2 separate regions of the Homo sapiens genome follow, and region 1 is linked to region 2. The links come from fine-mapping of genetic effects on gene expression. Tissue or cell type: whole blood. Region 2 holds a variant in brackets; the other region holds the start of a gene. All regions are shown on one strand. Distances are from middle to middle.

Evidence for each region. PIP is the estimated chance that this variant, and not a neighbour inherited with it, causes the effect.
Region 1: it holds the start of ZDHHC18, and the variant in region 2 is the best candidate, but not a certain one, in a credible set for the expression of ZDHHC18 in whole blood (INTERVAL, PIP 0.73).

What each region holds. Positions count from the first base shown.
Region 1 is chr1:26,824,247-26,828,425 of GRCh38, forward strand. ZDHHC18 (zDHHC palmitoyltransferase 18) reads left to right here and starts at 2,442. Exons shown (of 8, transcript NM_032283.3): 1 at 2,442-2,893. The coding sequence starts at 2,559. RefSeq lists silencers at 2,224-2,376, 2,340-2,489, 2,500-2,709.
Region 2 is chr1:26,873,573-26,877,751 of GRCh38, forward strand. It overlaps GPN2 (GPN-loop GTPase 2), which reads right to left. Exons shown (of 5, transcript NM_018066.4): 5 at 2,560-4,179. GPN2-AS1 (GPN2 antisense RNA 1) reads left to right here and starts at 2,562. Exons shown (of 2, transcript NR_199049.1): 1 at 2,562-2,738. RefSeq lists an enhancer at 1,302-1,801. The variant A/G (reference allele first, on the strand shown) is at 2,364.

The DNA.
Region 1 (4,179 bases), 49 kb before region 2:
TGCGGTATTAATGAACAGGAAGAGAGATAGGACATGAGTTTGGAGTTCTATTGGGCTTAAATAAATAAATAAAATGGAGTTCCATCAGCCTTACTTAAAAAAAAAAAAAAAAGAGGCCAGGTGCAGTGGCTCACACCTGTAATCTCAACCCTTTGGGAGGCCGAGGCAGGCGGATCATCTGAGGTCAGGAGTTCGAGACCAACCTGGCCAACATGGTGAAACCCCGTCTCTATTAAAAATACAAAAATTAGCCGGGCATGATGGCACATGCCTGTAATCCCAGCTACTTGGGAGGCTGAGGCAGGAGAATCACTTGAACCCAGGAGGCAGAGGTTGCAGTGAGCCGAGGTCATGCCATTGCACTCCAGCCTGGGTGACAAGAGCGAAACTCCATCTCAAAAAAATAAAAAATAAAATAAAATAAGGATATGAGTGGAGGGTTGGCCATGGACAGAAGGAGGCCCACATCTTCTAAAAAAGAAGAAAGGACAGATGCAAATAAAGAGAAATTATGAGATAGAGAGGAGGTAAACTGAAAATCCAGTAGGATTGCTTTGGTTTCTGTAAAGTGACGAGAAAAAAGAAAAGGTTTCAGGTTGCAAGAGGACCCAGTTAAGGTGGGACAACAGGAATCTGTACTGGAACCAGTATGTCTAGTTTTGTGACTTTGTTCCACAGCCAAGGAGCAAAAAGGGAGGAAGCTCACCATGTGGTTTGCTCAAGATGGGGCTCATCATATTGAGAGCCTTTGGCACCAAAGGCACGGCTGAGCAGCCTTTGGCATATATATCAATTATTGATCCTTAAGGTCACTGTTGTCGGCTTCCTACTCCTCCCCATTGTATATTTTTACTTCCTTTTTTACTTTCTCCTAGTCTCCAGTTCTTTTTTTCCTTGCACTTTTCCTTAGGTTTTACAGTAACCACAGTGTGACAGACATACCCTAAGCTGACCCCCAATGATTCCTGCCTCCTGGTATTTACGCCTTGTGTGATTCCCTTTTCTTGAGTGCAGATGGCTCCTGTGCTTTGCTTTTAACCATAGGAGATGGCAATGATGATGGGATGCCACTCTGTCACATATATAGTAAGTTATATAAAACTCTATCATCATAGTCTGGAGCTAGAGACCCTCATTGTCAGTTTCAAGAAACTAAGTGGCTATGTAGGAGAAACCTGCATGGCAAGGAAATGTGATAATCTCTAGGAACTGCAGGTGGCTTTTGGATCCTGAGAGAGGCCTCCAGCAGACACCCAGCAAAAATCCCAGGCCCTCCTCAGTTATACAGTCACCCAGCAAAAATCCCAGGCCCTCTTCAGTTAAACAGTCGCAAGGAAGTTAATTCTGCCAATAACCCAAATGGGCTTGCAAGTGGATTCTTCCCTGGCTGAGTCTCCAGATGAGAATGCAGCCTGATTGCAGCCTTGTGAGACTAAGCAGAGGACCCAGCTAAGCTGTTCTCTGGCTCCTGACCTGGAACCTGTTAGATAACGTTTGTTTTTTGTTTTTTTTGAGACGGAGTCTTGCTCTGTCACCAGGCCGGGTGCAATGGCACAATCTCGGCTCACTGCAACCTCCACCTCCTGGGTTCAAGCAATTCTCCTGCCTCAGCCTCCCGAGTAGCTGGGACTATAGATGCCGTGCCACCATGCCCAGCTAATTTTTTATTTTTAGTAGAGACGGGGTTTCACCATATTGGCCAGGATGGTCTCTCTCGACCTTGTGATCCACCCACCTCGGCCTCCCAAAGTGCTGGGATTACAGGCGTGAGACACCGCGCCCGGCCGATAATGTTTGTTTTAAGCCTTAAATTTGTGGTAACTTGTTACACAGCAGTAGAAAATGAATACTCCCAGAATTCCTGAAAAAACACTGGGGCCCTCAGGCATGACCCCTCTACATTATGTGCTACCTAGGAAAATCTGGGCCTGGGCCCAGGACACAGAACTTGGTGAACGAGGCCAGAGGGTGTGCCACACACCTCCAGTGGGCACTCTGGACTTCAAGGTAGAAGAGGTCCTGGCTTTCAAAGCAAATCGTGTGCCCCACCTCCCCGCGCCTGCCTGCCTCTGCAAATGCCTGTCAGTTCGACCCTCAGAGATGGGCGAAGCCTGGGGAATTACAGACTGCCAGAAGTAGATCACGAAGTCCACCACCTGAATCTCGGCGTTTGGCACCGTGCCTGGTACACAGTGGACGCCCAACAAACGGCTTGCTTGCAGAACAGAAAGAGCCCTCGAGTGCGCGTCTGCTGGCCCCCTCTTTGTGCAGAAGGGAAAAGGGAGACTGGGAGGGCCGGGGACCTGCGGGGCCCCGCCGCGGGTCAGAGCTGGGCCTCCGGCCAAGCGCCATCCCGGGCCCAGGCGGAGGGGGCGCTGCGGCGGGAGGCCGCGGCGGGCGGTGGCGGCGGGCCGGGGGCGGAGCGATGGCGGGGCCGCCCCAGTGAGTGAGCGAGCGAGCGCCGCGCGCGCCGCCGCTGCCACCTCCGCTGCTCGGCCCGGTCCCGGAGTGGCCCGGCCGGCCCGCGGGGCGCGGAGCCGAGGCCCGCGGCTGGCTGCATGAAGGACTGCGAGTACCAGCAGATCAGCCCCGGGGCCGCCCCGCTGCCCGCCTCCCCGGGGGCGCGCCGTCCCGGCCCCGCCGCGTCCCCGACTCCGGGCCCCGGGCCCGCGCCGCCCGCCGCCCCCGCCCCGCCGCGCTGGAGCAGCAGCGGCAGCGGCAGCGGCAGCGGGAGCGGGAGCCTCGGCCGCCGCCCACGGCGCAAGTGGGAGGTGTTCCCGGGTCGCAATCGCTTCTACTGCGGCGGCCGCCTCATGCTGGCCGGCCACGGCGGCGTCTTCGCGCTCACGCTGCTGCTCATCCTCACCACCACCGGCCTCTTCTTCGTCTTTGAGTGAGTTCCGCTGCCTCGGCGCCCCCTCCCAGCCCCCTGCCGCGCACCCCACCTTCCCAATCCCTGCTGGGCACTCCGTGCCTTCCCCTTCGCCTCCCTGGTCCTCATCCTCCCCGCCCCTTTGGGATCCTCCTCGGGCCTCTTGTCTGCCCCCCTGGCCCCTGCGCACCCCCATCCCCGCCAGATGCCCCATCCTCCTTGGTCCATTTGGGTACCCCATCCGCGCTGGTGCCCTCCACCCTCCCAGCCCCTCCATTCTCCCTGACCCCACCCTGGCACCTGTCTGCCTGCCACTGCCAGGAACACCAGCCTCCATGCCCCTCCACGGCCCCCATCCTCGCTGCCCTCTCAGAACCTGCCCCAGGGCTTCTTGAACAGGCCCCTCCTGCTCACCCATCCCTGGACCATCTCTTGCCAACCCCCCAAGTTCTTTCTGACCCTTGTATCCCTTCCTGACCACTTCTAGATCTTGTGTGTCCTTTGGCTGTGCACACCCACCATAAACATCCTAGTCATCCTCGCTGCCCTCTCCGGGTCCCTCCAGGGTCCCCTCCTTTTCTCTAGTCTCAGACACCAACCCCGCTTTTGCTTCCCCTCAGCCACGCACACCCTAGGCCCCAAGGCATCTTTTCTCAAAATCTTTGGGCCTCTCGGGCCCCCTTTCCTTCTCCAGAACCTTCCTTAGGTTCTCCAGAGCTTCCTGTCCTTCCCTCAGATCCCGCCCGCCTCCACCCAGCCGGCTCCCAGGCCCCTGGCCCCCCTGCTGACCACCTGGCTTTCTTTCCCTGCTCAACATTCTGGAACGTCCCTCTGGCCTGTTCCACATCAGCAACAGCTGCGGTGCCTTGTTGTTTTTCAGGAAAGACTTCGGAGTGCTTTCGTGTGACAGGTCATATTTGCCCCCCTAGGTTTTTGTCCTCTTCATATCCCCCGGTGACCCAGGATTGGCCCACACATAATCTCCATTTTATGGATGGAGGGTCATATATTTGTATTAGAAGTTTTCCACCCACCTCTGAGCCACCTGCACTGTGATTCCTTGCACACACACTCACACGCCCACCCACCCACCCTTGCTTCATAAGCCCTGCTGTCCCCTCCCAACTCCCCATCCTTTGTGGTTGTTCCTCTTAATTATACAGTGTAGTTAAGAACTCTAACAGACCTGGTTCAAATCCCAGCTCCACCACCCACTAATTGCGTGACCTCAGGGCAGTCACTTCACCCCCTCAGTGCCCCAGTTTCCTCATCAGTAAAATGGGATTTATAATAGTACCCACCCCGTA
Region 2 (4,179 bases):
GGTGGCTCATGCCTGTAATCCCAGCACTTTGGGAGGCCAAGGCAGGCAGATTGCTGGAGCCCAGGAATTGGAGACTAGCCTGGGCAACATAGTGAGACCCCGTCTCTACTAAAAAGAAATTATGTGACCTCTGAGATTACTGAGATTATATGATTTATGAGTTGAGGGAAATCTTTTTTTTTTTTTTTTTTTTTTTTTTTTTTTTTTGAGACGGAGTCTCACTCTGTCACCCAGGCCGGACTGTGGACTGCAGTGGCGCAATCTCGGCTCACTGCAAGCTCCGCTTCCCGGGTTCACGCCATTCTCCTGCCTCAGCCTCCCGAGTAGCTGGGACTACAGGCGCCCGCCACCGCGCCCGGCTAATTTTTTGTATTTTTTAGTAGAGACGGGGTTTCACCTTGTTAGCCAGGATGGTCTCGATCTCCTGACCTCATGATCCACCCGCCTCGGCCTCCCAAAGTGCTGGGATTACAGGCGTGAGCCACCGCGCCCGGCCAAGGGAAATCTTAACCCATGTCCCAGTCTCCGTTCTTTGCTGTTTCTGTGACTCCACAATGTGGAGGCTCCAGGATTAAATATAGGAAGAACTTGGAGGTGACAATTCAGTGCAAAGGGAGGCACTAGGGGACATTCCTGGAAGCTACATTGACATGGCAAGCACACTGCATTAGACTTCACATTTGGCCGGGTGCTCATGCCTGTAATCCCAGCACTCTAGGAGGCTGAGGCAGGAGGATAGCTTGAGCTCAGGAGTTCGAGACCAGCCTGGGCAAGATGACGAAACCCCATCTCTACAAAAAATACAAAAATTAGTCAGGCATGGTGGCATGGGCCTACAGTCCCAGCTACACAGTAGGCTGAGGTGGGAGATGGCTTGAGCCTGGAAGGTGGAGGTTGCAGTGAGCTTGGGCAACAGTGCAAGATTCTGTCTCAAAAAAAAAATTCACGTTTATTTGGCATGGCTGTGAATGGGCCTCTCATGTCCCTCCTCCACAACTGCTTCAGAGTTTTAGAATGAGGAGAAAAAAACAACCTTCGCTGTGCATTCTCATCCAGAGCAATTTACCAATACTGTCATTTTTTACTTGTTTTCACTGTCTTTTTTCCACCTCAATTGGCCCCTAAATCCCCACCCCATCTTGTCACAGCCCCTGTCTTGGCCCATCTAGACACCTGGGCTTCTGGGGCTGCCTGGAGTTAGCTCCCTGGCTGGAAAAGGTCACACTGGGCTTGAAATGAGGGACACAGGTTTCCACATCTTTAGCAGGCCTGATGCCATGGAGGTATGTGCTGCAACTCCTTCTAAACGGGACAAGAAAAGAGAGTGAATGGCCCAGATCAGGCTGGGTAAGTAAAGACTCAAAAGCCAGAGACAAGAGAAGAGAGAGAGGAGGGGACTAGTGTTTTGCTAGAGAATTTCCCTCCAGGATTCCGGGATAATTGGGCCTCTTCACTGCTTTCAAAATTGGCGAGGGCCTTAATAGTGCTTGGGTGGGTCTGAAGCCACTCCCCTCCCCCCTCAGGATTCTTGAGAAAGGGACAGAGAATTCCTCAAATCGGCCTTCCCTTTCTCTTTCCCACAGATCCTAATGGGACCATACTTCCTATATTCTCAGCCACCAGCGGGTGAGCATTTTGCTAATCCAGGCAGACTGGATGTGCTTCAGCTCTGTGGGCTTTAGGGCCTCACCCTCATGCCTAAGCCTCTTTGTCAGGCTGGAAACCTTTCCAATTACCTGTGGTCCCTGCTAAGTTCTTCCAATTCTACACTGTCTTCTAATTGTTGAGGTTCCCAGTTCAGAGCCAAGAAATGCATATAACCTAATGTCAGTGGTTAGTAGGGATGACCAGGAAGGTCCCTTCTAAGACACTCAGAGAGGGCTTCCTCCCTCCCGAAGTTGTAGAGAATTGTCAAGGGAGGTCTGGAGATGAGAAGAGCAATTTCAGACACTATCAGTGAGATGTAAAGTGGCACATTTTTTGGAAAGCATTTTGGCAACATGAATCCAGAACCTGGAATATGTCAGTTATTTCATTTCCAGGACTACCTCCCAAGTTAAAAATCAGAGACTCAGACAATGATTTGGGTACGAGGATATTAATCACACTATTTACAAAAGTAAAAGTTGGTGATGACTTGTAGGCTAGTAGTAGGCTAACCACGGGAGTATGGATAGGTAAACAATGTTATAGCCAAACCATGGACTATTACCAAAGTGACATTAAAAAGGTTATTTACTTGATTGTTTGAGACAGGGTCTCACTCTGTTGCCCAAGCTAGAGTGCAGTGACACAATCATAGTTCACTGCAGCCTCCACCTCCTGGCTCAAGTGATCCTCCCACTTCAGCCTCCCAGAGTCCT[A/G]GAATTACAGGAATTGTATCTATTTTTTATTACATGGAATGGTGTTAACTGAAAAAGGCAGGATACAACACAATTATAAAATATCCCACTTATATAAATGCAATATCCACCCCAGGTATAAAAATAAGGCTGAAAGAATACATAAAATATCTCCAGGTATTTACAGAGATGAGAAAAAAAGAGAATACACAAAATATACATTTGAATATAGAATTTATTTTTCTCTTAAACAGATGACCCCATAGAAAGTTTCCGTTATGGGATTCTGGGTGACTCATTTTCGTTTTTTTTTTTTTTGAGATGTACTTTCCATCTTGTTACCCAGGCTGGAGTGCAATGGCGCGATCTCCGCTCACTGAAACTTCCGCCTCCCAGGTTCAAGCGATTCTCCTGCCTCAGTCTCCTAAGTAGCTGGAATTACAGGCGCATGCCACCATGCCCTGCTCATTTTTTTGTATTTTTAGCAGAGACAGGTTTTCACCATGTTGGTCAGGCTTGTCTTACACTCCTGACCTCAGGTGATCAGCCCGCCTTGGCCTCCCAAAGTGCTGGGATTACAGGCGTGAGCCACCGTGCTCGGCCTTCTCTTTCATTTTCTAAGTTTTTTACTTTCCTATATTTATTAGGAAATTTAAAAATAATCTTAAGGATGACTGCCACATGCCAGCCATAATGGAGGATGGTCTTTCTTCTACCCTAGACATTTCACACTGAACAGGCCTCACTTGGATCTCGGACATCTTCCTTTCTGCACTGTGCAGATCCCCTCAGTATATGCAGAGAACAGAAAATCATTTTGCTGCCAGTGGAAGGTAGACAGAAGCTACGTTTATTGGGGAAGAAAATACCCTTGCTGTCAAACCATGGCCTGAAAATAAAGGCCTTGGATTACTCCCACCCATCTCCACTCCATGGGTGCAGAGAATGCTGAGGGTGCTTGCATACGAGACCATAAAGTTGTAAAGGATGCCTTCCAGCCCCCATTTGGTTTGTTATGGTGAGAGCTGGGGCCTCTGTGAGTGGCAAGCATCAAAACCCACGACCACAGCCGTTGGTACTGCTTTCAAAAGCATAGCACCCACCCTAATGCCCTGATAAAGGATTTGTCCAGTAGCCTGGGCGTCAGGATTCCTGGGCTCTAGGCCCCACAGGTGATTCACAGCTAGCCCCAGGCTGTGCCTCCTGGCCTCAGTTTTCCTGGCTTGCTCTATTGGTACTTCCTACCTACTCTGTGGGGTGTTAATAGGGGTGAGGTGCTTTGAACTTCTCAGATGAAAGAGGCTGGGAAGCAGCACCCAGTTATTATCCCCTTTACAGCCAGGCGTGGGAGCTGAGGTTGCTTTCATACTGTTCCAGCCACAGTAGCCTCCTCATAGCCCCTCATTCATCTGCCTTTGGCTCTGGCTGCCACAACCAGAAAGCAAAGCAGTCAGTCCTATTTCAATGCTGTTTCAGAACAGATGTCCCTAAATTAATTTGCCAACTGCCCAAACCACTGGTGAACTATCTATGATTCAGTAATACTTTACAGGTGCCTAATTTCTTTCTCCTGATTGGCTGCAAAACCTGTGGGACAAGGGCTGTGACTTCTCACCAATAAATATACCAAAGGAGGGATACTCGCAATTTAGTCAGCAAAATGGGTTATGAGAAAGCCAGGCTGACCAAAGTTCAAACTTCTCATCTTTCTGCTTCCTCACTGTAACACGGGCAATGGCTTATTAATTCTCCCCATCCTGTCTATCTCTAATGAGGATTGTGTGTGTGGAAGCACTCTAAAATACCAAGCACTTCATATGTGTTAATAAGTCCAAAT